7 linked regions of the Homo sapiens genome follow. The protein of the gene in region 1 purifies or fractionates together with the protein of each later gene. This does not show direct contact. Each region holds a gene or a part of one and is shown in the gene's direction. Other genes may lie near its edges. The genes, in order: GDA, MVD, AMDHD1, SMS, TIPRL, C11orf58 and RPS6KA3.

Evidence for each region.
Region 2: the proteins of GDA (region 1) and MVD fractionate together in Homo sapiens (co-fractionation; one large-scale study listed by BioGRID). This does not show direct contact.
Region 3: the proteins of GDA (region 1) and AMDHD1 fractionate together in Homo sapiens (co-fractionation; one large-scale study listed by BioGRID). This does not show direct contact.
Region 4: the proteins of GDA (region 1) and SMS fractionate together in Homo sapiens (co-fractionation; one large-scale study listed by BioGRID). This does not show direct contact.
Region 5: the proteins of GDA (region 1) and TIPRL fractionate together in Homo sapiens (co-fractionation; one large-scale study listed by BioGRID). This does not show direct contact.
Region 6: the proteins of GDA (region 1) and C11orf58 fractionate together in Homo sapiens (co-fractionation; one large-scale study listed by BioGRID). This does not show direct contact.
Region 7: the proteins of GDA (region 1) and RPS6KA3 fractionate together in Homo sapiens (co-fractionation; one large-scale study listed by BioGRID). This does not show direct contact.

What each region holds. Positions count from the first base shown.
Region 1 is NC_000009.12:72,246,533-72,250,934, forward strand, and holds part of GDA (guanine deaminase), read left to right. Parts: intron 1-873; coding exon 874-901; intron 902-1,739; coding exon 1,740-1,810; 3' UTR 1,811-4,217; coding exon of another isoform or gene 4,218-4,306; 3' UTR 4,307-4,402. UniProt on the Homo sapiens protein: Catalyzes the hydrolytic deamination of guanine, producing xanthine and ammonia.
Region 2 is NC_000016.10:88,652,662-88,657,063, reverse strand, and holds part of MVD (diphosphomevalonate decarboxylase), read left to right. Parts: intron 1-759; coding exon 760-959; intron 960-1,333; coding exon 1,334-1,408; intron 1,409-1,646; coding exon 1,647-1,865; intron 1,866-2,256; coding exon 2,257-2,372; intron 2,373-3,655; coding exon 3,656-3,764; intron 3,765-4,402. UniProt on the Homo sapiens protein: Catalyzes the ATP dependent decarboxylation of (R)-5-diphosphomevalonate to form isopentenyl diphosphate (IPP).
Region 3 is NC_000012.12:95,949,417-95,953,818, forward strand, and holds part of AMDHD1 (probable imidazolonepropionase), read left to right. Parts: intron 1-3,300; coding exon 3,301-3,407; intron 3,408-4,402.
Region 4 is NC_000023.11:21,975,209-21,978,708, forward strand, and holds part of SMS (spermine synthase), read left to right. Parts: intron 1-1,852; coding exon 1,853-2,028; intron 2,029-2,751; coding exon 2,752-2,906; intron 2,907-3,500. UniProt on the Homo sapiens protein: Catalyzes the production of spermine from spermidine and decarboxylated S-adenosylmethionine (dcSAM).
Region 5 is NC_000001.11:168,195,493-168,199,718, forward strand, and holds part of TIPRL (TIP41-like protein), read left to right. Parts: intron 1-1,054; coding exon 1,055-1,150; intron 1,151-3,426; coding exon 3,427-3,489; intron 3,490-4,226. UniProt on the Homo sapiens protein: May be a allosteric regulator of serine/threonine-protein phosphatase 2A (PP2A). Isoform 1 inhibits catalytic activity of the PP2A(D) core complex in vitro. The PP2A(C):TIPRL complex does not show phosphatase activity.
Region 6 is NC_000011.10:16,741,126-16,745,527, forward strand, and holds part of C11orf58 (small acidic protein), read left to right. Parts: exon of another isoform or gene 1-2,542; intron 2,543-3,475; coding exon 3,476-3,559; intron 3,560-4,402.
Region 7 is NC_000023.11:20,176,410-20,180,811, reverse strand, and holds part of RPS6KA3 (ribosomal protein S6 kinase alpha-3), read left to right. Parts: intron 1-3,727; coding exon 3,728-3,816; intron 3,817-4,295; coding exon of another isoform or gene 4,296-4,313; coding exon 4,314-4,378; intron 4,379-4,402. UniProt on the Homo sapiens protein: Serine/threonine-protein kinase that acts downstream of ERK (MAPK1/ERK2 and MAPK3/ERK1) signaling and mediates mitogenic and stress-induced activation of the transcription factors CREB1, ETV1/ER81 and NR4A1/NUR77, regulates translation through RPS6 and EIF4B phosphorylation, and mediates cellular proliferation, survival, and differentiation by modulating mTOR signaling and repressing pro-apoptotic function of BAD and DAPK1.

The sequences.
Region 1 (4,402 bases):
CTAGGTTTGATGAAGAGTGGAAAGTTGTAGAGAAATATGATAGGACAAAGAGTGTGGTCCAGTGGTAATAAGCTAGAGAGAACTTAGCAAGGCCTGCTTGTTCAGATTCTTCTCTGTGATCCTTTAGCTTCAGAGATCAGGTATAGGGAGGGCACCCCTTACGTGATGGTCTTATGACCTGCATTGGGGTAAGGGGTAAGGGGAGGGTCAGAGTGACCTTCCTGTGTTTGATTTGAGGGTAGCGTGTCCTGACCCCCTCATTATTTTCATATTGCTTATTCTTTTACTCTCTGATTAGAGTAAATTTCTAAGAATAGGGCTCTAGGGAATAGTCCTAGTGATTTTTCTTATATCAGGGGTGTCCAAGGGAGTTCTTAGTTTCTGTTTCAGGTTGTGCCAGTAAAGCCCCCTCCCTCATCCCTCTTTTCTGCTTATCAGTAGAGACAGAAACTAAAAACCATGGCTTCAGGCTGCTAAAAGCCTAAAACAAAACATAACAAAACAGAACAACAACAACAAAATAAGGCAGGTTGGATGAGCTTGTCTTACATCATACCCGTCTTGAAATATTTGAATTATTTTACTAAATTAATTTCTTTAATTTATATAATACCTTTTCTCTGATGACTCAAAATTCACATACCCAGAACTTTCACACAATAGGTAAACTTCTGTTAATTGCCAGTGGGTTATTTTTTGTTCTGGGAGGTTTTTATAAAGCACATAGCCACTTCTTTTTTAATTAATAGAAGTAGATTTTGCCATTGAGAAACAAATTCGTATTTCTGGGCTTTGTCAACCACTATCAGCTGTGAATTTACTTTTCTAAATGCACAAATGAGTCTTTCTTATTACTTTTATTTTCCATTTTAGGCTGTTATCCAGAAGTTCCTCTATCTAGGTAGGTAGATGCATGTCTCTATGCTAAATATTAAATAGAACCTTTCCCTGTCTTTTTCTTGGGTATGGCTCTATGTATTTATCCTACCATATATTAAACTCTGTGGATGATAATTTGCTTTGATTCATTATTTTTTTAACAGTCTGAAGCATCAAGCCCATTGGTGGCACATTATTTAAAGGTTCTATTTGAAATGCACATGACTCCCTCTAGTCATAAATTCTAAGCTGAGGAATGGAAGGCCAAAGGTGAAGAGATCTTCATGTTCAACCCTCTTGTACTCATTCGGTATCTGACATACTGCCCTGCCATGTTTTTGTGACAAATGTATAGTAGAGTCTCACCACACGTGCTGGTGATGTACTCACATTCAATTCCATTCACTGAGAGAGAGAGAAACAGTAATGCAGAATATTCTACACTGCCTCCCATTCTGTTCAGTGAGCCCAGGACTGAGTGAACTCAAGATGGAAAGATGCATGTGTTACTTCTTGTGGAGCTGATTCTGGAGCGTAAAGAGTAGTATTTCTTTCTCAGTGGGGGCAAAATGTAAACCAACCACTTCAGCTGAGAAAGGACAGCTATAGGGGGTTGATTCAACTTTATGTGATTTCTGCCTCTGGTGCAGAATTCAGACCCTAATCATCAAATTAGCTATGGCATTTTCTACTAGTCATATCTTCCTGTTCAGATTATAAACAATCTGAGGGTTGGGGGAAAGCAGCTTTTAGTATTTCCTCTCCTAGAAGTATCTTTAAAAAAAATCTCTCCCAATGGCAAGGAAGATACTTATTGACACAAAAGGATTTTATACATGATTCCTTGATTTTTCTTTCAGGAGATGATCGAAATATTGAAGAGGTTTATGTGGGCGGAAAGCAGGTGGTTCCGTTTTCCAGCTCAGTGTAAGACCCTCGGGCGTCTACAAAGTTCTCCTGGGATTAGCGTGGTTCTGCATCTCCCTTGTGCCCAGGTGGAGTTAGAAAGTCAAAAAATAGTACCTTGTTCTTGGGATGACTATCCCTTTCTGTGTCTAGTTACAGTATTCACTTGACAAATAGTTCGAAGGAAGTTGCACTAATTCTCAACTCTGGTTGAGAGGGTTCATAAATTTCATGAAAATATCTCCCTTTGGAGCTGCTCAGACTTACTTTAAGCTCAAACAGAAGGGAATGCTATTACTGGTGGTGTTCCTACGGTAAGACTTAAGCAAAGCCTTTTTCATATTTGAAAATGTGGAAAGAAAAGATGTTCCTAAAAGGTTAGATATTTTGAGCTAATAATTGCAAAAATTAGAAGACTGAAAATGGACCCATGAGAGTATATTTTTATGAGGGAGCAAAAGTTAGACTGAGAACAAACGTTAGAAAATCACTTCAGATTGTGTTTGAAAATTATATACTGAGCATACTAATTTAAAAAGAGAACTTGTTGAAATTTAAAACGTGTTTCTAGGTTGACCTTGTGTTTTAGAAATTTGCACTTAATGGAATTTGCATTTCAGAGATGTGTTAGTGTTGTGCTTTGCCTTCTTTGGCGATGAATGTCAGAAATTGAATGCCACATGCTTTCATAATATAGTTTTGTGCTTCAAAGTGTTTGACAGAAGTTGGGTATTAAAGATTTAAAGTCTCTTAGGAATATTATTCATGTAACTCCATGGCATAAATAGTTGTATTTTTGTGTACTTTAAAATCAACTTATAACTGTGAGATGTTATTGCTTCCATTTTATTAGAAGAGAAACAAATTCCATGCTTTATGGAATTTATGTAGACTGGAGTCTTCGTGAACTGGGGCAAATGCTGGCATCCAGGAGCCGCCAATACTAACAGGACAGGTTCCATTGCCATGGCCTATTCCACCCAAACAATATGTTGTAGTTTCTGGAAATTCCATACTCAGATATCAGTCTGCTAGAACTTTAAAATGAAGGACAAATCCTGTTAAAGAAATATTGTTAAAAATCTTTAAACCCTGTGTATTGAAAGCACTCTATTTTCTAATTTTATCCAGTTTTCTGTTTAACTCCTTATAATGTTTAGGATATTAAAATTTTAGGATAATGAAGAGTACATAATGTCCTACTTAATATTTATGTTAATAGGACTTAATTCTTACTAGACATCTAGGAACATTACAAAGCAAAGACTATTTTTATGCTTCCATAACCTAGAATTAAAACCAAATTATGACCTTATGATAAATCTTTAAGTATTGGTGTGAATGTTATTTAAATTCTATATTTTTCTTATTTAATTACAAATACTATAAATGAGCAAGGAAAAGGAATAGACTTTCTTAATATATTATAACACTCATTCCTAGAGCTTAGGGGTGACTCTTTAATATTACCTTATAGTAGAAACTTTATGTAATATAGCTAACTCCGTATTTACAGAACAAAAAAACACAGTTCCCCCTCCTGTAGTATAAATTTTATTTTCACATACTTAGCTAATTTAGCAGTAATTGGCCCAGTTTTTTCCCTAATAGAAATACTTTTAGATTTGATTATGTATACATGACACCTAAAGAGGGAACAAAAGTTAGTTTTATTTTTTTAATAAACAACAGAGTTTGTTTTGTGAGATAAGTATCTTAGTAAACCCAATTTCCAGTCTTAGTCTGTATTTCCAATATTTCTAATTCCTGAGCCACGTCAAAGATGCCTTGCCAAATTTCTCCCCATTTCTCTACGGGGCTAGCAAAAATCTTCAGCTTTATCACTCAACCCCTGCCAAAGGAACTTGATTACATGGTGTCTAACCAAATGAGCAGGCTTAGGAATTTAGATGAGATGTGTAAGATTCACTTACAGGCAGTAGCTGCTTCTAGCATTTGCAAGATCCTACACTTTTACCTTCTTTAAGGGTGTACATTTTGATGTTGAACATCAGTTTTCATGTAGACTTAGGACTCATGTGCAGTAAATATAAATAAGTGTAGCATCAGAAGCAGTAGGAATGGCCGTATACAACCATCCTGTTAAACATTTAAATTTAGCTCTGATAGTGTGTTAAGACCTGAATATCTTTCCTAGTAAAAATAGGATGTGTTGAAATATTTATATGTACTTTGATCTCTCCACATCACTTATAACTTATGTGTTTTATTTCTCCAAGTGCGGTGTTCCTGAATGTTATGTATGCTTTTTTTTCTGTACCACAGGCATTATCTATACCTGGGGCCAGATTTTCTGCACTTTGAAATGTTGCCTTTGCCTAATGTAGGTTGACTTTCTGAATTGTGGAGAGGCACTTTTCCAAGCCAATCTTATTTGTCACTTTTTGTTTTAATATCTTGCTCTCTGACAGGAAAGAAACAATTCACTTACCAGCCTCCTCACCCCATCCTCCACCATTTCCTTAATGTTCCATGGTATTTTCAACGGAATACACTTTGAAAGGTAAAAACAATTCAAAAGTATCGATTATCATAAATTCACAAAATATTTTTGCAACCAGAACACAAAAGCAGGCTAGTCAGCTAAGGTAAATTT
Region 2 (4,402 bases), on another chromosome or scaffold:
GAAACCACTTCAAACTGGCTCAGCCCTAAAATAGCGATGATTTTGTGGCTCACGTAACTGAGGATTCCAATGGGCACAGCTGGTTGCAGGCCCCGCTGGACCCAGCTCTCTGCTGGCCCCAGGCCACTTGCTGGCAGCTTCCCACCCACTGTCAGAGCCTGTCCCCCCGGTGGTGGTCTCACACCATCTTCACCCCTCAACTCCAGGGGTGACGCTTCCTGGCCCACCTGGGCTCCTGCGCCTTCCCTGAACCACCCTCGGTGACCAGGGTGGGTGACCAGACCTGGAGGTGGGGTTGCCCTGCTGGAGCCCTGTGGGAGGAGGGGAGAAGGTGGCTCCCGTGCTGGGTGGGCAGGGGGCGCGTCTTGTGGAGTCCAGCTCTGTCCTGGCATCGGTCCCTGCCCCACACAGCCTTAAAATTCCTTCCCACCCTCAAAGCCCAGCTTGGGTGTCCTCGGGGGCCTTTCTCCCGCCTTCCATGGGGCTTCCTGCTCTGCCGCAGGTACCTTTTGTTGCCCTTGTCGCGGGCCGCAAGCTCTGCAGGCCGTGAACAGAGAGTGTCCGAGAGTGGAACTAGCGGAGGTGGGGGACAGACGGCTGGGCCGGTGAATGCTGGCCTCAAAGGCTGATGGCCCAGAAGCCCTGTCATCTGGAAATCCCCATTTGCCGTGGGGTGTGGGACGTTCCTGGGGCGGTGAGCTGTCAGGGAGCACAGCGCAGGCAGCTCTGAGGACCCTCCCTGAATCCGCATGCCTGCAGCCTACACCCTGGCCCGTGTCTACGGCGTGGAGAGTGACCTCTCAGAAGTGGCTCGCCGGGGCTCAGGCAGCGCCTGCCGGAGCCTGTATGGGGGCTTTGTGGAGTGGCAGATGGGAGAGCAGGCCGACGGGAAGGACAGCATCGCTCGGCAAGTGGCCCCCGAGTCACACTGGCCTGAACTCCGCGTGCTCATCCTTGTGGTGAGTGGGGTGGGGCGGGTGGAGCAGCAGCCCGGTGGCCTCTGTCCCTAGTCAGGGCTGCTGCCGGGAGCAGGAGCGAAGGCGTCCATCCAGGCTTTGCTTGGCTCCTGGGGTCAGCGGGGGCTGAAGGAACAGAAGCGTGGTTGAGTGCTCAGGAACCGCTCCCATGCGGCGGGCGCCACCACCCGCTGGGATCTGGAAGTTGCCCCTGCGTCACCCCTGCTGTGGCCGGGAGGCCTCTGTGGTCAGGCAGGTGGCACTGACTCCCACCCCCGCTGCCTGCATTGGCTGAGGGAGGGCCGAGTGTTTGAGGCTGAGGTCCTTGGGGCTGGCCCCCTGCAGGGTGTGGCCCAGGCTGTCTCTCCCTCGTGCAGGTGAGCGCTGAGAAGAAGCTGACAGGCAGTACCGTGGGCATGCGGGCCAGTGTGGAGACCAGCCCCCTGCTTCGGGTAAGGCCAGGAGCGGGTGGTCCCGGGGCCCTGGGAGTCACGCTTGTGCCCGGCTCTGCCCTCAGCCTCTGTCTGGGCCCGAGTGTTCTCACACCTGCGGCAGCCCCGCCAAGACCACGTGCAGGAGCCAAATGCAGAGATGGGGCTCGAGCCGGGCCTCCAACCCCGGAGTCTCTCCTCGAACCCTCTGCTGTCGAGACCCCCAGCGGCTCCATGGGAAACACCCTGTGCCTTGCAGTTCCGGGCCGAGTCCGTGGTGCCCGCGCGCATGGCGGAGATGGCCCGCTGCATCCGGGAGCGAGACTTCCCCAGCTTCGCCCAGCTGACCATGAAGGACAGCAACCAGTTCCACGCCACCTGCCTCGACACCTTCCCGCCCATCTCTTACCTCAATGCCATCTCCTGGCGCATCATCCACCTGGTGCACCGCTTCAACGCCCACCACGGGGACACCAAGGTGACGCGGGCCGGGAGGGCAGAGGCTGCGCTCGCGCTGTAGCGCGTGTCTAGGCTTGTGCTGCCGTGGAGACGGCCCCGGGGCTCGCGTGCAGGGCAATCTGTGTCTGAAAGCTCCACCCTGCTGTGTGCGAAGCTCACTGACCATCTGGGTTCTTCTGTTTCATTTTGTTTCTTGACTTGCCCGGGTCACGGCCCCACCACCTTCTTCCTGGGTTCACAGGCAGACGTGTCAAGTACCAGGCACTTGGGGTCACAGCTCCACTCCAGTGTGGCCCTGAGGGCCTAGACTGAGCTCTTGGAGAGCCCAAGGCCGCCTGGCAGACCAGAGGGTTGGGGAGACAAGGGTCAGGCACCACGTGAATAGCCAGGGTGACTGCTGTGGGTTCCAGGTGGCGTACACCTTTGACGCGGGCCCCAATGCCGTGATCTTCACCCTGGACGACACTGTGGCTGAGTTTGTGGCTGCTGTGTGGCACGGCTTTCCCCCAGGCTCGAATGGAGACACGTGAGTGTGGACCCCGCCCCTCCTCCTTTTTGGGAGATGGTGCCAGGAACTCTGGTCGGAAGAGACGGAGGCACCTGAAGGCTGTGGCGCTGAGACAGGGAGTCCCAGGGCAGGCAGCAGTCCCCCGAGTGTGGGAGCCACGGGCAGGGTGTCCCCATAGAGCCATCCCACAGCCCACGTCCACAGGGAAGAAAGAGAGGCCGCTCACGCGTGTGTGAGCAACGCCCAGGGTCTCCCACCTCCTGAGTGACAGCGTCCCCTGCAGCTCGGGACCCCGCAGGCTCTTATTCTATAGAACAGTGGCTTAGGAAACACGCCTGCACTCCCAGATGTGTGCGTAAGTGTCCGACATTTTGAAGGAAAGGAGTCAAAGCCCCTGATTTCCTTCTTACTGAAGCGAGTTAGAGCCAGTCAAGGCGGCCGGGTGTTGACCCCGCCCCGGCAGTTGGGTGTCTTTTCTTGGGTGGGGTCCGGCAGCTGCATCTTGGCGCCACAGAGCCCCCATGTACGCCCTCCTCGGTGCACAGCTTGGCCCTGAACCGCCTCTTCCCCTGCGCTGCTCTGTGGGGGTGCCACAGAGCCCCCATGTACGCCCTCCTCGGTGCACAGCTTGGCCCAGCCTCCTTACGCCCCGGGGCTGTTGATTTCTTCCCTCCCGTGTTTTCATGGTGTCTTATTCTCAATGTGAGAGGCGCCTCCCATTTAAGGGTGTCTGGAAGCGTGTGGGGATGTGCGTCTGTCCCGGGTGGGAGCAATAACACCTTCTAATGGTCAGGGGCCTGCCCTGTGGGGTGGACTCAGACCCACACCCCAGGACTGCCCGCCTGGGAAGCACCAGGCTCGTGGCTGCTGCTCCGGGTGGGGCTTGCAGGCTTCCGCTGTTCTGCAGAACACGGTGACGAACGCACCAGCTTGAATTGGGCGCTTCCCTGAGCTGTTACCCCATGGGGCTTGGCAGCACCCTTGGCCAGATGTGGGTCCAGCCTGGGCATAGCTGTTTACCACATAACCTAAAATTTCCTGTCTCAGCCATTCGAGAGCATATAATCCTGCGGTGTTGAGGACATTCACAGGGTCATGTGAGCACCACCTCAAGCCACCTCCTTAACTTTTTCATCACCCCTAAAAGAAACCTGTCCCCACAGCAGCCACCTGCCGTCTCCCCCTCCCTGAGCCCTGACGGCCAGGAATGCACTTCCCATCTCTGGACTTGCCTGTTGTAGACTGTTGTAGACGCTTAGAGAAACGGATGCATTCACCGTGCCCCTGCCCTGCTTTTCCAGGTTTCTGAAGGGGCTGCAGGTGAGGCCGGCCCCTCTCTCAGCTGAGCTTCAGGCTGCGCTGGCCATGGAGCCGACCCCCGGTGGGGTCAAATACATCATTGTCACTCAGGTGAGGCCTGGGGCTCACCCAGTACCCCGGGGTTTCCTTTCCTGCCAGGGGGGCCCGCCCAGCCCCCAGGGCCCTTAAAGGCTAAGCGCGGCTCCCTGTCCCTACCGTGTCTCAGGCAGGAAGCCAGAACGCCTTTGTCCATTCATTTGCTCTCAAAGTGGACATTACAGGCCACTGGTGATGCTCAGAGCAGCAGGGCTGCGCTGAGGGTGGGAGGGTGAGTCTGACACAGGCTCCCAGGGAGACAGGTGGGGAGTATCAGACCCTTGAATAGGGAGCGCCTGGGGTGGGGGCTGCTGGGGTCCCTGGGACCCCCCCACCCCAACCACCCCAGCAGACCGGAGTTCCTGCCCTCTGACCTGCTCCGAGGGCCAAGCTTGCATCCAGTGATCACGGCCGCCCAAGCCATTGCCGCCACCTTCCTCTCAGGGGCTGCCTGTTCCCAGGCTCTGTGGTTCTCTGTCCCCCCTGTGACAGAAGCAGTGCCCAGGGCAGGGGGCTCGCAGCTGGCAGGGGCGGCTGTGCCTGCAGGAGCTGCGTGTGGGTGTCACCACTCAGGCGCTTTACCTTCTGACCAGGACCCACAGGAAGGGCGGGGGCACACCGCTACCCTCCTGTGTCCGGCCCTACAGATGCTG
Region 3 (4,402 bases), on another chromosome or scaffold:
AATTTGCTTTACTTTCAGAAGACTCTGCAGAATTTTTCTTCCTAAATTTCTCAGAATACAAAGTAAATAAAACCACATGTGCCTATTATTTGTATCCCCTAAAAAAGTATATGTGATATACGTTCATTGTAGGAAAAGAAAATACAGATGAACAAAAAGGAAAAAGTCACTCAAACCCCATCATTAGGTGAACTAATACCAACATTTAGTGCTTCTGCTTTCAGATGTTTTCCTATGCAAATAGAATCACATAAAAATGCATGCTTTAGAAAAGGAAGCTATGCATATTGTTTTGTATTCGGGTTTTTTCACTTAGTCATAAATAGTGAAAATCTCACCATAGCAGTAATATGTATCTTTGTAATTTTAATGACTACCTTAAAAAAACACTTTTGGGGGAATGCTTTTTGTTGGTTTCCTTCAATAACTGCCCTCATTATGTCCTCAACAAAGGAACATAAGCCTTTGTTCAAACATAGGTACATCCACAGATGAATGAGAGAACCACACTGTTGAAAGGTAGATAAGCATGGGATTAGTGGGGTCAGGAAGAGGACCCAGTGCCCTCAAAATTCACCTCCTGCACAGACGGAGAATGTTAGAGATTTATTTCTTAGGTTTGACTTTGTTAAAACAACCTCTCTTAAAGCAGTGTCAGTCATTAACTCTTTGCATAAGAGCATTCTCTTTGTTCTTTCCCATTCAAGGGTCAATTTCTAATCCTGCCGGTCCTTTCCACCACCAGATTCACTGCACACTGGGTAGATTATCTAACTGGGCCAGATAAAAGCTGTTAGTGATGAAGAATTGTCTTAATCAGGATACTAAATTCTATTTCAAGACTTAATTTCTTATTCCACCCTAAGTTTATCCTCCCCAAATCTCCCACAATCATTATTTCTTTTCCTATCATAACATCTTCTCTTTCCATCCAGTTTCTTCTGCTCTTCCACTCTTACATTTTGTTAGGTTACCCCAACCACTTCTGTCCCAGTTCGGAATCCCTTATCCTAATTGCTTTTCACAACACATTCCAGCTCTCAGGTTTATAGCCCTCAATCTCCATGTTGGAAATACGAATTTGTTGTAAGTGACCAAGACCTAAATTAATAGTGGCTGAAACAAGATGGAAGTATATTTCTCTCCTATGTGAAAATCCAGACATACGAATGCAGGGCTAGTTGATTGCAATACTCCATGGGGTCCTTAGGAGCCAGGCCCCTGCTGCCTTGCTCTCCCATGCATGGCCCACTTTCTTACACTCACTCCATGACCCAAGATGGCCACCCCATCTCTAGTTGTGGTGTCTGCATTCCAGCCAGTAAGAATAGGAAGAGAAGACAATCTTACCGGCTAGACCTTAGTCTCATAGCCACACCTGGCTAGTGGGAGGTGGGGAAATGTAGTCTGTATTTTGGGTCATCATGTGTCCAGCTAAAATTTAGGGCTCTACTAGTGTAAAAAAGGGAACATTGATCTTGGGGAACAAATGGCAATTGTCTGCTACATATATTTGACGTTTAAAGTTTTTTTAATTGTAAATTTTCATGGGTACATATATATGGGGTACATGAGTTATTTTAAACAGTCGTACAATGTGTAATAATTATATCAGGGTAAATGGGGTTTCCATCATCTCAAGCATTCATCATTTCCTGGTGTTACAAACATTCCAATCGTACTCCCTCAGTTATTCTAAAATGTGCAACATATTATTGCTGATTGTAGTCACCCTGTTGTGATATCAAATACTGGGTCTTATTCACTGTATCTAACCATATTTTTCTAGCCATTAACAATCCCCATTTTTCTCCTCTCCCCTTCTATTCTTCCCAGCCTCTGGTAACCATCATTTTACTCTCTATCTCCATGAGCTCAATTGTTTTCATTTTTAGCTCCCACAAATGAATGAGAATATGCCAAGTTTGTCTTTCTGTGCCTGGCTTATTTCACTTAACATAATGTCCTCCAGTTCTATCCATGTTGTTGCAATTGACAGAATCTCACTCTTTTTTATGGCTGAATAGTACTCCATTGTGTGTATGTATTACATTTTCTTTATCCATTCATTTGTGGGTGGGCACTTAGTGTACTTCCAAATCTTGGCTATTGTGAATAGTGCTGCAATTAACATGGGATGCAGACATCTCTTTAATATACTGACTTCCTTTCTTTTGCATATAGATCTACCAGTGGGATTGCTGGATCATATGGTAGCTCTATTTTTAGTTTTTGAGGAACTTTCATACTCTCCATAGTGGCTGTACTGATTTACATTTCTAACAGTGTACAAGGGTTCCTCTTTCTCCACATTCTTGCCAGCATTTTTTATTGCCTGTCTTTTGGATAAAAGCCATTTTAACTGGGGTAAGATGATCTCTCATTGTGGTTTTGTTTGCATTTCTCTGAAGATCATTGATGTTGAGCACCTTTTCATATACCTGTTTGCCATTTGTATCTCTTCTTTTGAAAAATGTCTATTCAGATCTTTTGTCCATTTCTTAATCAGATTATTAGGTTTTTTCCTATTGAGCTGTTTGAGCTCCTTATATATTCTGGTTTTTAATCCCTTGTCAATTAGATAGTGTGCAAATTATTTTCTCCCATTCTGTGGGTTGTTTCTTCACATTGTTGATTATTTTCTTTGCTGTACAGAAGGCTTTTACCTTGAAGTGATCCCATTTGTCCATTTTTGGCTTGGTTGCCTGTTCTTGTGGGGTATCCCTCAAGAAATTGTTGCCTGAACCAATGTCCTAGAGAGTTTTCCCAAGGTCTTCTTTGAGTAGTTTCATAGTTTAAGTTCTTAGATTTCAGTCTTTAACCCATTTAGATTTGATTTCATTCTTTTGCATATGGATAGCCAGTTTCCCTAGCACCATTTATTGAAGAGACTGTCTTTTCCCCAATGTACGTTCTTGGCATCTTTGCTGAAAATGAGTTCACTGTAGATGTATGGACTTATTTCTGGGTTCACTATTCTGTTCCACTGGTCTATGTGTCTGTTTTTTATGCCAGTACCATGCTCTTTTGGTTACTATAGTTCTGTAGTATAATTTGAAGTCAGGTAATGTGATTCCTCCAGTTTTGTTCATTTTGCTGAGGAGGCTTTGGCTAATCTGGGTCTTTTATGGTTGCCTCGAATGTGGCTAGAGACGCTTTTCCAGACTCAGGTTCAAGATAGAAGCACAGTAAATGTTGACTAATTAACACCAAAGAATCTGAAAACATATTTTAAGTCACTCATCAGATTTCTCACAAGATTTCCCCAAATTTAATAACTATTTCTTGATTTTTCTTCAGAGATGGATTTATAAAAGCTATTGGTCCTGCTGATGTTATTCAAAGACAGTTTTCTGGAGAAACTTTTGAAGAAATAATTGACTGCTCTGGGAAATGTATTCTACCAGGTATTTACCTCTTTTTCAGTAAAGGTCTACAAGTAGCTTTAACAGTTGCTCCTGAAATGTAAAGAGGAAGAGTAACAGCTTATTTTAAAGTCTCAAAATAATATTTAAAAAAAATCATCGTTCCATGTATTGAATTTCTATTATTGAATGTATAGCTGCTTTCAAACATGGTTTCACCTTGAATCCTTATAACTGCCCTGTGTGGGAGGTATCATTATCTATACTTTACAGATTAGAAAATTGAAGCTAAGGGTGAAATATGTTACCCAAGGTTCCTAAACAGGAAACAGACAACCTAGGAATCAAGCCCATTCATTCGACTCCACTTCTTCCCACTCACATGCTGAATAGAAACCAGCTGTGTTGTGTTTAGGTTCAAAAACAGTCAAAAGAACTTTATTAATCCATGGCATAGGAGAGGCTAACAAGGCAGCTGCTGTCTCTAATACTAGAAATACTCTAAATTTGTATAGGATGTGAAACAAAGGATCCAGCTCTGGGCAGAAAAAGAAAAACAAAAATCCTAGAGCTTTCACTGCAGTTCACTTGTATCTTTGATGATTGACAACAGAATCAGTTTATTAACCATCATCTCCTACATTATGTTGTATGGCTTCATATAATCATCCAAAACAAGTTTCACAAACTTTCAGTTCTACACAAACAAAAGGGCTTCATATTTATATTTTTTTATATAAAATTTTTATACTTTTAAATATTTATTGTACACATCTGACAGAGCTTCTAACTGATGGGTTTTCATTTGTTTGTTTATTTTGAGACAGTCTCACTGTGTCACCAAGGCTGGAGGGCAGTGGTGTGATCTTGGCTCACTGCAACCTCCACCTCCCAGGTTCAAGCAATTCTTTTGCCTCAGTCTCCTAAGTAGCTGGATTACAGGCATGCACCATCATGCCTGGCTAATTTTTGTATTTTTAGTAGCAACAGGGTTTCACCATGTTGGTCAGGCTGGTCTCAAACTCCTGATCTCAAGC
Region 4 (3,500 bases), on another chromosome or scaffold:
TACCTCCTGGTAGCCCGTTATAGGGCTACCAGCGAGATGCCCTTTAATGCTAGGTTGAGCACTTCATCAGGGTAATGGCATTTACATCCTGTTAAGATCCTTCTTTCTTTGCTAGTCTTTAAAAAAACCATAGAGTTACAATGTAGGAAAGAGCTCTTCACCTTAGCCAAGGCACTATTGACACAATTGAGAACAGGCACTGTTTAGTTTCAGTGGGTTTGCCTGTAGTGCAGTAATTGCCGATAGGTGGCTGGCTGTCAAGGAGAGGGTAGTCTTCCTCCCCTGGAAGTGAGTGACTTTGTCGTTCATCCAATGCCATGGGTGGCTCACTCTCACCTCACTCCCCACCATCAGCCAGGGGTGGAAGAGGCTTCCTCCAAGTCCTGTTCGCCTGCTCTCTAGCAGTTGTCCTGATTGGTGCTTCACATTTTACAATTTACAAGAAAAACCCTCTAGAATGCCTCACATTCTGAAAGCTGAATTTGTTCACATGGAAGGTGAAGAAGTGGTTAAATGAAGAGTTGTCAGGATGACATGAATTTATGGGAGTTTGCCTTTTCAATCTCGGTGTTCTTTATAGATGTTAGTATTCCCTCATAGAAAGCCTTGTTAACTTGTAACAGGTTTAGACTGTACTCTTGGAAGCTGGTGAGCAGGGAAGGGAAAGAGACTCATAAGAGTACGTCAGGCCGCATATCCCAGCATTTTACATGTCTACAGCTGTACATCATGGCGTTTTAATGTTGAACACTACTGTGTTTGAGAACACATGACTCACGCAGTTGTGTTATGTATGCAGTGAGCTCTCGTTTTCTTTGTGTTTGGGTTAGACTTGCCAAGCCCCTTTTCCAGGTCTTTTTTTTCCTGTCATTTAGTGTCCTCTGCTGGTACCTTCTAGTACATTCATCCTGTGAAAAATACCGGGTATTTACAAAAGAATGAATGAAAAAATCATCATTTTGCAGCCTCTGTAGTAGTAACTGGTTCAGGCCAGAATCTTCTGCATGCTAAAACCACTGGTAAAGGTTTGTTGGGGGGTGAGGACTTCTACCTAGTTTCAGAGCACCACCCCACAGCCTGCTTAGTAATTTCAGAGGGTGAAAAAGGTACCTTTGCAAATGGAGAGAGCCCATGAATACCACTTTAACCAAGTGATCACAGACTTAGCATCACCAATAATAGGACAGATACACATCTTGTGTTCCCGATGTGATGCCTGTGTAATATATGTCAACCTGATTCTAACCATGAAGAGTGAGAGATTATCAGGTAAACCCACGAGTCATTTTTCAGCAGAATAGCTGGTCTGTACTTGGAGATATCAGTGTCATGAAACATACCAGTAAAAAAAAAATTATACGTTACATGAGGATAAAAAAGAAAAAAAAAACAGGGAAATGCAGTGTATGAGCCTTTATTCAAGAGCAGAACATCTATAAAGGATATAACTGGGGACACTTGAAGATGGACTCTGTACTAGATAACCATATCATACCCATGTGAACTGGTGTAAATGTGGTAATGTCCATGTAGTTATGTAGATAGTCTTAAGAGACAGATGCTGCTGGAGCATTTGAAATATGAAGTGTGCAGTGGCCATCTTCTCCTTCAGCTTTTTGTTAGAGAAAATCTAAAGCATGACAGGATTTTTTAAAAAGTGAACTGTGTACAATAGTTGTCAACATTTGGTGGTGGCCGTGATTATATAAAACTAAAAGCCCAAGCTTTGGATTCGTTTTGTGCTTGTCAAAAGTCGGCAGTCATGTGGCTTTCTTTTGCACACTCTTCATCCTAGCTCCACTTGTAAGGCAGTGTTCTAGTAAGGTACATTTCTGTTTTTCTCTTTTTCCAGATTACCACCCATAGTGCGAGGAGGAGCCATCGACAGATACTGGCCCACCGCCGACGGGCGCCTGGTTGAATATGACATAGATGAAGTGGTATATGACGAAGATTCACCTTATCAAAATATAAAAATTCTACACTCGAAGCAGTTTGGAAATATTCTCATCCTTAGTGGGGATGTTAGTAAGTATTCCATCCCTGCCCCGATCACGTAACAAAGTGGTGATGTGTTGAATGATGGTGTTTTCCTGACAATTACTACTGTCGTGGATTTGTTTGAGTTTGTTTTTGACACTGCTGGTTTTTGAGATGCACATTTATGTCATATTAACCTGTGGATTGTCTGGGCTTTCACATAAACTTTGTCTTGACATTGCTTCCTTAGTGATGAGTATTTGGATTGTATTTCAAAAGAAAATGCATTTGCATATTTAAAAAAAAAAACCTTTTTGTTACAGAACAATTCAAACCTAAGTAGACAAACTAGTGTGATGAACCCACATGTACTTACCATCGAGTGTGAACAATTACCACCTCCTAGCCAGTCTTATTTTACCTAAACCCCAGTCCACTTTGTCCCTCTCATATTATTTTGAAGCAGCTCACAGACATCATATTATTTCATTTGTAAAGATGTAATTGCTTTTAGTTATTCGGTATATTGACACATTTTTAAGGCTGGATTTTCTTCCCACTGACTAATGTCCATTTGTATTAGGTGTCAGATGATCAGGGTTGATGAAAAAGTCCTCAATGGAAAAAAAGCTTGCAAATTGTTCACAGTTTTAAAAAATTGAAAATGAAAAATTTACATTTTGGTCTAGATCCCAGCTCTTCAGTGTGGTGGGGCCAGGTGGTTTGTGTGTTAAGGTAGACTCACCATTTGGATCTGTTTCTCCTCCCTAGATTTGGCAGAGAGTGATTTGGCATATACCCGGGCCATCATGGGCAGTGGCAAAGAAGATTACACTGGCAAAGATGTACTCATTCTGGGAGGTGGAGACGGAGGCATATTGTGTGAAATAGTCAAACTAAAACCAAAGATGGTCACTATGGTAGAGATATCCTTTGTTGTATAAGAGAACAAGTTCAGTGGGCTTCTTTTGTTTCCTTCCTTCAGTGTCTCACAACTCAAATTAATGTTACCACAGACTAGAGGCAAATGTGTTACCTAGACTGCCTTGAACAGACAATTTAGTAACAGTACCCTTTTATGTGGCCATCAACAAAGAAATAATCAGCTGGGCACAGTGGCTCATGCCTGTAATCCTAGCACTTTGGGAGGCCGAGGCGGGTGGATCACCTGAGGTCAGGAGTTCAAGACCAGCCTGATCGACATGGCGAAACCCTACCTCTACTAAAATTACAAAAATTAGCCAGGCATGGTGGCGGGCACCTGTAATCCCAGCTACTCGGGAGGCTGAGACAGGAGAATTGCTTGAACCCTAGGTGGCAGAGGTTGCAGTAAGCCAAGATTGCGCAACTTCACTCCAGCCTGGGTGACAGTAAGACTCTGTCTCAAAAACAAACAAATAATCTACCTAGTTGAGGATTAAAGAGCAAAGGACTTTGATACTGTGTCTGCTGCCTAGCAGTTTCCAAAATGGCTTCTCTAAAGCCATCTCATGAGGAGAAAAGAAGATTAAGTTCCTTTT
Region 5 (4,226 bases), on another chromosome or scaffold:
AATCCAAGACTTACTATAGTAAGAACTTGGTGTTAGTAGACAATAGGTATTTATTCAGCAAATGGCCAAGCATATTCATTTTAATTAATTAATTAATTTTGGGACAGGGTCTTGCTCTGTTGCCCAGGCTGGAGTGCAGTGTTACAATCATGGCTCACTGCAGCCTATCTCCCAGGCCCAAGCCATCCTCCCAGCTTAGCCTTCCACGTAGCTAGGACTACAGGCTTGTGCCACCGTGCTTTGCTAATTTTTTGTATTTTTTGTAGAGATGGGGTCTGACTCTGTTGCCCAGGCTGGTCTTGAACTCCTGGGCTCAAGTGATCTTTCCACCTCAACCTTCCAAACTGCTGTGATTATAGGTGTGAGCCACCATGCCAGCTAAACATATTCATTTTAAAGACCCAAATACCTCACATTCCATTCAACCGCTCTCTCCCCGCCACCAGGACCCACCTTCATACTTTCTCCACTGATTCTGCCTATCATTAGTAGTTATACTTGGAAAGCAGAGGAATTTGTAGATGTGCCACAGATGAAAGATGTTAAGAATGTGTTATAGTGTTCTGATAAACCAGGTCTTTAGCAATATGTAATAGTGCCTACAGGTTGCACTGAATTAGAGCATTCTGTGTAAGGTCTGTTGCTTTGTTTTATGTAAAGTGAATAGGTGAGTAGTGACAAAGAACTAGGTTGTTCTTTCATTTTGGTTTTATTGGTGTTGACATTTACTATCAGTACCTGCCATTTTTTGAAATAAACATTATAATTTTTACATTACTTGGGTATGTTTTTAAGTCTTTTAAACCTCAATATCTCCTCACCTAGAAAAAATATTTTAGGAAACCGAAACTATGATGTTAAATAGTTTGCACAAGGTTTTGAGGCTAGTTGGAGCTAGGACAAAGAGCTTCTAGTTGAGAGATTTTTATAAACTGTGAATTCAGCCTTATTCCAGGGTTTTTTTGTTTTTTGTTTTCAAATTTTTTCTTTCAGCAAAGTAATAAAATGTTTAATTTTTATTAAAATATTAATGTACCTTTTTTTTTTTTTCCAGAGAGTAATGCCTTCTAGCTTTTTCCTGCTGTTGCGGTTTTTCTTGAGAATTGATGGGGTGCTTATCAGAATGAATGACACGAGACTTTACCATGAGGTATTTATTGTTGTTTAATGAATATACTAATTGATACTGGGCTTGTTTGTGTTGTTTAATTGTCAATCTGAGAATTTGAAATTAAACAATCTATATTATATGGCAGTCTTTCTAACTGTTAAGTCTGAGTGTTTCACATTCACTGTTGACTGCAGGCTATCATCAAAACATTACATTTCCTTTTACAAAGGTTCTGGTGACTCAAAATGTTTTCTAAAAGACACTCCCTAATTGGGGAGGGGTCTTTTGAGACAATTTTGTATGTACTTAATCCATGTTTAAGAAAACTGTCCTTTAACTCTTACCTTTGTTTACAGTATATGTTGTTTATGTAATGTCCTGATGTACATTAATATACAGGAAGTACATTAATATATTAATCAGGCCAAGGCCGGGCGCCGTAGCTCACGCCTGTAATCCCGGCACTTTGGGAGGCCGAGGTGGGTAGATCACCTGAGATCAGGAGTTCGAGACCAGCCTGGCCAACATGGTGAAACCCTGTCTCTACTAAAAATACAAAAAATTAGCCAGGCATGGTGGCACGGACTTGTAGTCCTAGCTGCTACTTGGGAGGCTGAGGTGGGAGGATTGCTTGAGCTGGTGAAGGTTGAGGCTGCAGTGACAGAGCAAGACCCTGTCTCAAAGAAAAAAAAAAAAAAGAAACATACCTAAGTTATACAGTTAGTAGGTGGCAGAATTGGAATTTGAACCTAGTAGGATAGGATTGGATTGATGCTTTCTAAACCCTTCACTTAGGGATTTTTTCTTGAAATAACATGGTTATAGTGATAGACCTTTTTTCTTTTAAAAGTGGTGGCAAAGTACTAAACATAAGCTATATTTTTGTTCCCCAGAAAGAGAAATCTAAATTTTATTTTTATTTATTTATTTGAGATGGATGGAGTCTTGCTCTGTTGCCCAGGCTGGAATGCAGTGGCGCGATCTTGGCTCACTGCAACCTCTGCTTCCTGAGTTCAAGCAATTCTCATGTCTCAGCCTCCCTAGTAGCTGGGATTACAGGCGCCCACCACCACACCTGGCAATTTTGTTGTTGTTGTTTTTAATGGAGTGATGGGGTTTCACCATGTTGGCCAGGCCGGTCTTGAACTCCTGACCTCAAGTGATCCAATTGCCTCGGCCTCCCAAAGTGCTGGGATTATAGGCGTGAGCCACACCGCTCCTGGCCTAAATGTTAAAAATACTGTTTTAATTAAACAATATTGAATTTTAGGAATTTATCCTAAAAAGATTCTTTTATATAATAATCTACTAATATTAATTGGGCAATTACTCAGAGTTATACGTACATGAATATTCACAGTAGTATTGTTTATAATAGCAGAAAGGAAGGAAAGTAGGAACTTAATGCCCATTAAATGGCCATTAATTAAATTGTTTATATCCATATGGTATAAAATATATAATTATTAAAATTGGTTGCAGAGATTGATATTTAAGTAATTTTGAAAGATATTCATTTCAGTGTTGAACTTTCAAAAGCAAGTATGAATCTACTTACATAAGATTCTCTGTAGAGATTTCTAAGTATTAAAGATAGTGTTACCTATAAGCTGTGATCACTGATGATTTATACTTTTATATTATTTGATTTTTTTCCTACAGTGACTATTAATCTGTTTTTATTAATACAAGAGAGTGAAACCTTAAAGGCATATAATTTTGTGGCTTTTCTTTTATTGAAAAGTGTTTCAAGAAGTAAATTATAATAAGTTGCTGTTCTAAAACCTAACCAAAAATCTTAAATGGGAAAAATTGAAGTACAAAAAAGGTGATTTTAAGTAAGCTATTTGGTAAGAGCTTTATGGAATGGGAAAGAATAAAAATTTTAAAGCATGTTTTGCAACATAAAAGTAGCACAATTACGTAGGTAAATGATAAGATAGCTTAAGGGAAAGATGTTTCAAACTTGAAGTAATTTTAAAATCTCTTGCATATTTCATTTATACAAATTCATTATATACATTATTCATTTATATACATATTCTTTCAAAGTAAAATCTTTGCTATGTTTCTCTTACATGGTAATTATAAAATCTGTTTACATATGTGTATCATCATTATAATGTATAGAAATTGGAAATAATAATCCAATTTGAGTTAAATAGGAGTTATCTCAGTGTAGAACAAGATGTTCTCTTTAGACTGCATGCTGTTTTGACAACCTATCCTAAAATGTAGGCAGTCTGTTTTTAATACAAAGGATTTTGTAAATCAGTATAATTAAATTTATTGCAACTGTTTATTTTTAAATACAGGCTGACAAGACCTACATGTTACGAGAATATACGTCACGAGAAAGCAAAATTTCTAGTTTGATGGCAAGTACTTAAATTTCAGTTTTTAGAAGTTAATTTTAATGTTTCATTTTAATTTAAGTAGCATATACCCCTGACCCCAACCACCCAAGTTTACATCCCTAAACCCATTCATTCACCTAATGGGGCTCTATAGGATAAATTCTATGGGAGCATAACTTTTCTGACCTTACCTCAAATACAAGAACATTTAGAGCTGCTAGGTACTTAAGCCTCATCTAATCTAATTTTCACATTTTGTTCTAGAGAAATTGAAACCCAGAGGTGTGACTTACTCTGAGTCACATAGCTGGCTGGTGATGGATGTTCTTTACACTTACCACCCTGCCGCCTTATTTCTTTCTACATAGTCTCCTTTTCTCTTCCGAAAATGTGGTGATTCTGTACCATAATTTGTTTGTTTTGGCATCATTTTTCTTTATTTTTTACTCCCCGGGACCTGTGAAGCCTTCCTTAGAACTTAGGATTCTATAATGGGTTGCTTAAAAATTGGTACCTTCCTATAAACTTGATTTTATTTTTTCACGCTTAGTATGTACTTCTGTCTGGGTATAGAGTATACTTGGAACAGAAAAGTTACTACTTAGATTCTATTGTAGACTACATGCTGTGCTCTAACCGAAGACTAGTGTTTTCAAGTTACAAAAGCAGGAGATACATAGGGTTGGATTAAGATGTATTAAATTCTTAGGACATTTGTGGGAACATTATAGATTATATAACCCTGTGATCTTTGATGA
Region 6 (4,402 bases), on another chromosome or scaffold:
ATATAGTTGGGAAACAGTTTCTAATGAGCATCCACGGTATGTGAGAGATCATTGAAGTTTTCTTATGCCCATTGACCTCACATCTAATTGAGGTAACAAAACATTTTTTTACTATTAAAAGTAGATACTAAATCACAATACAACTCTAGAAAAACGCTAACAATGTAGGAGTAAATTCTAAGAGTCACCAGGTTATGTATTGAGGAGGTAAATTGATTGCAGTTCTGTAGTAAAGGGTATTAAGGATGAAAACAACTTAAAAGTCGTTTCATTGGCTTGGAGTGGAGAAATGAAAGCTATCTTATAGGAAGTGGGAAGAGTGGGGAGGTAAATTTTAGTAACTGCTAAGGAACTCTCTTAAAATGTATAGTGCACCCACGTGCTTTTCAGAATGCAGCATTTGGGCAAGTACTCACTGTTGTACTTTAAGGCAGGGCTCTCCAACCCCTGGGCCACAGAACCAGGCTGCACAGCAGGACGTGAGCTGTGGGCCAGCCAGCAAAGCTTCATCTGTATTTACAGCCACTCCCCTTGGCTTGCATTACCACCTGAGCTCTGCCTCCTGTTGGCATTTGATTCTTATAAGAGCGTGAACCCTGGTGTGAACTGCACATGCGAGTGATCTAGGTTGCACACTCCTTATGAGAATCTAATGCCAGATGATCTGTCATTGTCTCCCATTACCCCCCAGATGGGACTGTCTAGTTTTAGGAAAACAAGCTCAAAGCTTCCATTGAGTCTACATTATGGTGAGTTGTATAATTATTTCATTATAGATTACAGTGTAGTAATAATAGAAATAAAGTGCCCAATAAATGTAATGCACTTGAATCATCCTGAAACCATCACATCCTCCCTCTCAGTGGAAAAATTGTCTTCCACGAAACTGGTCCCTGATGCCAGTCTGGTCCTGGAGTGCTGCTTTAAGGTCTTTGAAAAGAAGAACTGGCAGGACTTAATGTTATTTCCTTAAAACATTGGGATTAGAAGTTGTAGATGACAGTTATTTATATAAACACTGAAAATGTTTTTTAATAGAAGCAGAATCAAGAAAGTTGGTTTTTACACAATTTTTTAACTTCTATACATTTTTATAACTAGTTCATAGACCACTTTCATCTGTCTCATTTGATCATGGACAGTATGATGTGGAAAAAACACAGGATGGTCAGAGGATCAAAGGAAGTCACTTAGCCTCTCTGTGCCTCAGTGTCTTAAGACAGTCTTTTAAAAAGGCATCTCTTTATAGATAAGGAGTTAAAATTAAGTTAAATGTCAGATCCTGGCTTACAGAGCAAGTGATTTAGTGATTGTCAGAACTGAAGCTTCACCATTACTTTAACTATATTGAGCCAGAAATAGTTAAGAACTAAATGGCCCATAAAAATATATGAGGGGGGTCACATGGAAAAAAGTAGAGATTTGGAACTTAGGGAACCAAAATTATGAGAGCATATAAGCCCTTCCACTAATGAGAATTTAGAAGTGCAAATGGGTCCAGGTTGGTACAAATGCTTTAACTCTCATATGCCCAGGGGAAATAGTGGTTTTTTTAAATATTCTTTTAGTCTTTTACAAATAATTTTTAGAAATAATAATGGGAGATAGTGCAAAACAACTTTATTAGGAATTTTAATGTGAATTTAACAATAGCAAACCGAAATTTATATTCTTTGTTTTCCTGATTTTGATGTACATATAGTCATCCTTCAGTATGCTAAATGTGGGGGATTGGTTCCAGGACCCACCCACCTCTTTGGCAAATCTTGCATACTCAAGTTCTGCAGCCAGCCCTGTGGAACCTGAGAATAGGAAAAATCAGCCTTCCATATACTTGGGATGGATCTGCATTTGGTTGAAAAAAATCCACTTATAAGGGACCCTTGAAGTTCAAACCTGTCTCGGATTTGCATCATCAAAATACAATACTTGAGGAATTTTTGAAACCTATTGCTTACAATTTTGTAATTGTCATCCTTGCTCCATAATTGCAAAACATTTTTATTTTTAGATTATAAACTTAATTAGAATGATAAATTCGGTGAATATTTTTATTTCATTTTCCTTCCAGTCACCTTGTGTACACATCTGCCTTCACCCTTTGTCCATTTGCAACCAAATCAAGTAAATTTTGATGCATAAACATTGTAAAAGATGAGATAAAACACTCACACCTCCTTTTAGAAAATGGGATGATCCTGGCTCTTACTGTGAAATATTGCAAGATGAAGTCCTTCCTGCTGATGGCTCTCCCAGTGAGAGTACATTTCTTGTTTGTCTTTTTTTTCTTTTTCTTGTCAATTCTTGGGTGGGAGAAAAGCCTTCTAATATTTCCTCATCCAAAAACTCATAGTCTGAGATTTTTGCAGTTAATTTTATCATGATTAGTCTAGAATACGACTGCCTTTCATTTTGCATTCACCTTCTTCGTCTAATAATGATTAATGCCTTCTGTCAGTTTTTTCTCTTTGCCATTATGAATGGAAAATGAAAAATTGTGAATTCCCATCGGTGTTCAGTGAAAGCTAAAAGTAGACAACAGGTATGATGTCTTGAAAGATGATGATGAAATACTTTGGACAATACAATGAGAAAACTAATATCTTAAAAACTATTTAGTTATTTTTAGCATAGTTGAGAATAATGAATTATAAATAATGAATTATAAATAATGAACTATTAAAAACTATTAAAAAACAACAGTTTTTACATTTGTTTCAAAATGTAGGGAAAAAATACGCTCACTAGGATTCCATCATATTTCTTAGATTTATAAGAGTTCAGTGGACTCATTTGATAATTGCAAGATAGCATGAGTTTTAGTCTGTTCTTTTAAAAAATAAGTTTTCTCTTTGTTCTTTGGAAGACTTTTAAGAAAGAATAAAAGTAATGACATCTCAATCCTAACAAGTAACTAGAACTGCTAAAAAAAAAAAAAAAAAGGCAACTGAAAAGTTAAAATTTTCTCTCTTAAAAGTTAGCTCACTGATAAAGGCAGAATTTTTAACTTCAACTAACAACTGTGGCTGCCATCTAAGTTCAGAGTACTAGGTGCTCTAGGACCCTACCCTGCGAGGCAGTGGGTCTCAAAGTGTGGTCCCCAGATAAATAGCATCAGCAATCATTTAAGAATTTGTTGAAATTCAAATCCTAGAGCTCCACCCCAGACCCGCTGAATCTCTGGGGCTGTAGCCCTGCAGTCTGTTTTAACAAGCCCTCTAGGTGACGCTGATAGAGGCAAACTTTTGAGACTCAGCTCTGGCTGTAGGAGAACTAAAGGATTCTGCTGTGAGGTAATAGAAAAGGAGTAAATTTGAATGTGATGAATATGCTTAACTTCCTAAGCAAGAAAAATGAACGCTGTTTATAGTTACAACTGACAGGGGAAAAAAACTTGAGAGTTACAGGTAGACTTTAGATTTCGTAATACTTATTTTTATGCAAAAAAAATTTAATCAACCAATTTTTTTTCTAGCTGGGATCTAGCAATTGGGAGGCAGCAGACTTGGGTAATGAAGAGAGAAAACAAAAGTTCTTGAGACTTATGGGTGCAGGAAAGGTAAGCATCAGATGGTGTGCATTTTTACCTTTTCTGTGAAAATATTGCCATTTTTATGTATGCTAAGTAAGAAGGACTGAATATACTTGGATTCCATTTTCCTGTTCTGTGTGATTTCTTTTGGCTTTGGGAAATACATGTGGCCTAACCAAGCACATAAAATTTATATTATTTTTGAGCCACTTCTAGGATTCTCTGTCCGTATAGTTTGAAGACTGTACAGAGAAAAATTTGGTTCAAGGAGGCTGTATAGGAGAAAAGAGATGTCAAAGTTTATGATTTGCCATATGTTGGCCCAGTGGTTTGATAGAATATATTTCTTCTGGGTAGGTTATCTTGTGGGAACCTCTGGCCAAAGTGAAAAGGCTGTCATATTTTATAGCTCCCTCCAGCCCTTGAAGTAGTAACCAGAGGAATATCCTTTATCAAAAACTTAATTTTAAGACTACACTTTCAGAGATTATTTCTATAGTTTGTTACTAGATAGAGAAGTTTCTCTGAATGTGTAGAACACCAGGGGGAAAGAAAACCTTAATTTTAAAAATGTTCAAGATACTTTGAAATGCCTGTCAGTTTGGTTAACGTTAATAGAAGGTACAGTTGACCCTTGAGCAATGTGGGGGTTAGGGGTGCTGGTTCTGCAGGCAGTCAGAAGTTTGCATATAACTTTTGACTCCCCAACAACTTAACTACTAATAGCCTACTGTTGACTGGAAGTCTTACTGATAACATAATTATCAGTTAACACATATTTTGGGTGTTAAATGTATTATATCCTGTATTCTTACAATAAAGAAAAGGAAATGTTATCAAGAAAATTATAAGGAAGAGAAAATAATTGAC
Region 7 (4,402 bases), on another chromosome or scaffold:
AAAAGCATAAAGTTTATTTTATTCTTTGCTATGGTAAGGCTAGAGTCTCCCCAAATATAGTAGACCACTAATCTTATATAGGGTTTTGAGGAAGGGTGGAGCTCAAGAAGTGGCAGAGTTTCATGTCTATAAGTGGGTTGACATTATCTGTAAGAATGTGATTATTTGGGTGGGACTGTTGTTGATCAGTGGGCATTCAGGTGTGTTTATTGGAGTGAGTCCATTCCTGTTTGGCTAATTTTCAGAGACAAAGAGCAGTTACTCATCTTTGCAGGTGTTCACCAGGCAAGTTGTCATTGATCAATTCAATGGATTTTAAACCAACTGAAAGGATTTAAAACCAGTTCTGGTGGTTCTCTTGTTACCATGGTTACATAACAATTAGTCTTTTCCTAGGAGTATGGAAATTTTTTTTTATTCCCTTAGTGTTATTAGCTTGATCCTCTATTCTGTTTTTGGTTAAACTGTTTTAGCAAGATTATTTCACAGCTAATACCGTGTGGTCCCTATTACATCAGGAGGCTTACAATACCTGGTTGCCCCCACTTTAAGTGATGGGCTCCAGTGGTTGCAGCTGATTCCTCCGTTGTAAAGTTCCCTGGCATGCTTTTAACTAATGGTTCTATCCATTAATAATCATTACTTGAAACAGTTATTTTATAAGGAATTCAAAAGTGATGAATTGCTTTTCTTTTAAAAAAAAAAAAAAAAGTTTAAATTTTGGAGATGAGGTCTTGCTCTGTTGCCCAGACTCGAATGCAGTGGCATGATTACAGCTCACTGCAACATCAAACTCCTGGGCTCAAACGATCCTCCTGCCTCAGCATCTGGAGTAGCTAGGACTACAGGTGCACCACCATGCCCAGCCAAGTTCTTTAATCTTTTGTACAGATGGTATCTTGCTATGTTGCCAGGCAGGTCTCAAACTCCTGGGCTCAAGTGATCCTCCCACCTCCGCCTCCCAAAGTGTTGGGATTACAGGCATGAGCCACTATGCACCAGCCATGATTTTCTATTATTATTATTATTCCTTCCTCATTTATTAGCTGGTATTTTCTCAACAAACTTTCCCTCATCAACTATGATGATTTAATTACTTGAAATAACGCTCATCCAAGAAAAAGAGAATAAATACTTAATTCTTTTCTTAAATTGTTTCTAATGTCAGAGCCCTAGTTACTTCCTAGTGGGGGTAGTATCCAGTGAGTCGAGTTTTTGTATTTTGACTTTGCTTTTTCTTACTTTACATAATAAACTCATGGGATTTAATAATCAGTGTGATTCAGCCAATTGCAGTCATTATTTTTAATGCCCTAATTGTTCTTTTTCTGACTACCTTTTAAATGGTCTTATCCCCCAGGATCCGTCTATGATATGCTTTTCTTCCCCCTCTGCACTCTTTCCTGACTGACTTCAGTCTTTCCTATAACTACCCTCCACATTTTAATTACTCTCAAATCACTCTTTCTTACATGAATTTACCAGGCATTAGACCTGTGTTTCTATTTACTCACCTGCCTGGCCCTCCCAAAACATATTACATGCATGACTTCACATCTTTGAACTAAATGTATCTTTATTTGCTGTTCTTTTCTTATACTCCCAGTTATCAGCATTTTCATGCACCCTCTTCCAAGCCAGAAACCAGGAAATCATTTTTTATTCCTTCTCTCTTTTGCATAATTAGGTATTCTCCAAATTCGATCTCAGAATTATTTCACTGTTCCAGCCTTTCCTCTGAATTAAACTGCTTAAAGTATTCAGAAAACAGTGACCTCTTACCCATACTATCTGACCACATTCCTAAGTTGATTGCCTACCACTTATGACCTCTTCCCACTCCAAATTGTTCTCTATTACCCTTGGAGTTACCTTCTTGAAAATAAGTCTAGTCATGTTAGTCCAGTTTCAGGACCTCTGCTGCATCCTTGTTACCTAATACAATAGTGTTTCCCCAGATTTGTCCAAGAGAATATTAATTCTACAAGATATTAATAGGTATTCTTTGAAAAAGAGGTGCTGGAAATAAATACTTAGAAAATACTGATTTCACCCATAATCCCAGCACTTTGAGAGGCTGAAGTGGGAGGATCACTTGAGGCTAGGAGTTCAAAACCAGCCTAGTCAACATGGCAAAACTCCATCTCTACAAAAAAAAAAAAAAAAAAAAAAAAAGCCAGGTGTGGTAGCACACACCTGTAATCCCAACTACTTGGGAGGCTGAGACACGAGAATCCCTTGAACCCAGAAGGCAGAGATTGCAGTGAGCCGAGATTGTGCCACTGCAGTCCAGCCTGGATACTCTGTCTTAAAAAAAAAAAAAAAAAAAACTGATTTGTTTGCTCTAGATTTCTCAGCCTTTTTATATGCAGTGTATTTTAATTCTGTGTGTCTAATAGGGGGATATAATAAATAGCATTCTACAAGCTCATTGGGTCATGAATTTTTTTATTGTTGCTAACTATCTAGAGGGATTAATGTTATTCAGTAAAATTTGGGGAAACACTAGCCAAATGAATAAATTGTTAGCCTTTAGATTGCATTGAAGACCTTTCATAATCTCCCATGTTAAATTAAATATCCCCTACTGTTCCCTTGTCACTCTTTGCATATGTTCTTCTGCATTTGTCTCTTAATGTACTAGCATTATCTGTATCCATCTTCACCATGGACCATGAGTTTCATGGGCTCTCTTTATCTCTGTATCCTCAGCACTAAACAGTGTCTGGCATGTAATAGCTCAATAACAACCCACTGAATAATAAATGGATCTGTTTCTGAAATAGGAATTTTCCCCAGCTCTATTATTATTGTCATACTTACAGGATCATTGGTTTCTTTAATTTGTAGGTTTGGAAAAAGAATTAAAATTAGAGCTGAAACAGACCTTCAAGTTCATCTAGGCCAGCAGTTTTTAGACTGTGTATCTTCAATATTTCACAATCCTCTTTCCCACAGTTCCCCTTCCCTTCAGGGGCTGTTAAAGGGAATAGAAAGGAAAAAGTGGCATATGAAACACATGTTCTCTTAGCAGCTTTAAATGTTAGGTTTCTTAAATTCCCTTTGAGGAGGAGTTCCGAGGCTATACTTTGGGAGCTATTGGTCTAGAGACCAATCCCTTTGCTTATGAAGAAATGATAACAGGCCCAGAATAATTGGCTTTCCCACTGTCACAAAGTTCTTAGTAACAGAGCCAGAACTAGGATTCAAATGATCTTACTTTCACAGTGCTCTTTGCAAAATTTTGAAAAATGAAAAAGCTTATTAGATTATGAACTAAAATTCAGTTATGTGTTCACATGAAAACCTGTACATAAATGTTCACTGTAGCTTTATTCATATTAGCCCCAAACTGGGCACAACCCAAATGTCCTTCAACAGATAATGGATAAATAAACTGTGACATATTCATACAGAAGCCATACATGTAATAAAATGGCATAGAACTAAACACACACACAAATAAGTGCAAATAAAACCAGTGCCATGTGAATGAGATCATTGGATTGTCTCCATGTCAATATCCTGGATGTGATATTGTACTGTAGTTTTGTAAGATGTTACCATTGGGGGAAACTGGGTAAAGGGCACAGGGGATCTCTCTGTATTATTTCTTACAACTGAGTGTGAATCTACAAGTATCTCAAAAAGTTTAATTTAAGAATTTTTAAAAATAAAAATACAGATGCCTCCAAAAAATAAAATATTATGTGGATTTATTATTTAGAGCCAAACTTGGAATGCCACAGTTTTTGAGTCCTGAAGCGCAGAGTCTTTTACGAATGCTTTTCAAGCGAAATCCTGCAAACAGATTAGGTAAAAATTTTAACTAATTTGTTTATGTTGTATGTTTGTTGGTGTTTGTTTTTAGCGGGGAGTAGATATTTGTTTTGTGGTGGAATTATTAACTATTTAGACAAGGCTAGGCCTGGTGGCTCACGCCTGTAATCCCAGCACTTTGGGAGACCAAGGCGGGAGAATTACTTGAGTCCAGGAGTTCAAGACCAGCCTGGGAAAAATGGCAAAACCTCATCTTTACAAAAAATACAAAAATTAGCCAGGCATGGTGGTGCGTGCCTGTAGTCCCAGCTACTCAGGAAGTTGAGGTAGGAGGATCACTTGAGCCTGAGAGGTTGAGGCTGCAGTGAACTGAGATCACACCACTGCGCTCCAGCCTGGGTGACAGAGCAAGCCCTTGTCTCAAAATTAATTAATTAATTAATTAATTAATTAGACAAGTATTGAAAACAAAGGCTGAGCAATATGTATATTTCTCCTTGAAATAAAATTATCAGTGAATCCATTTTTGATAGGTGCAGGACCAGATGGAGTTGAAGAAATTAAAAGACATTCATTTTTCTCAACGATAGACTGGAATGTAAGTATAGAATGAAAACTTGCT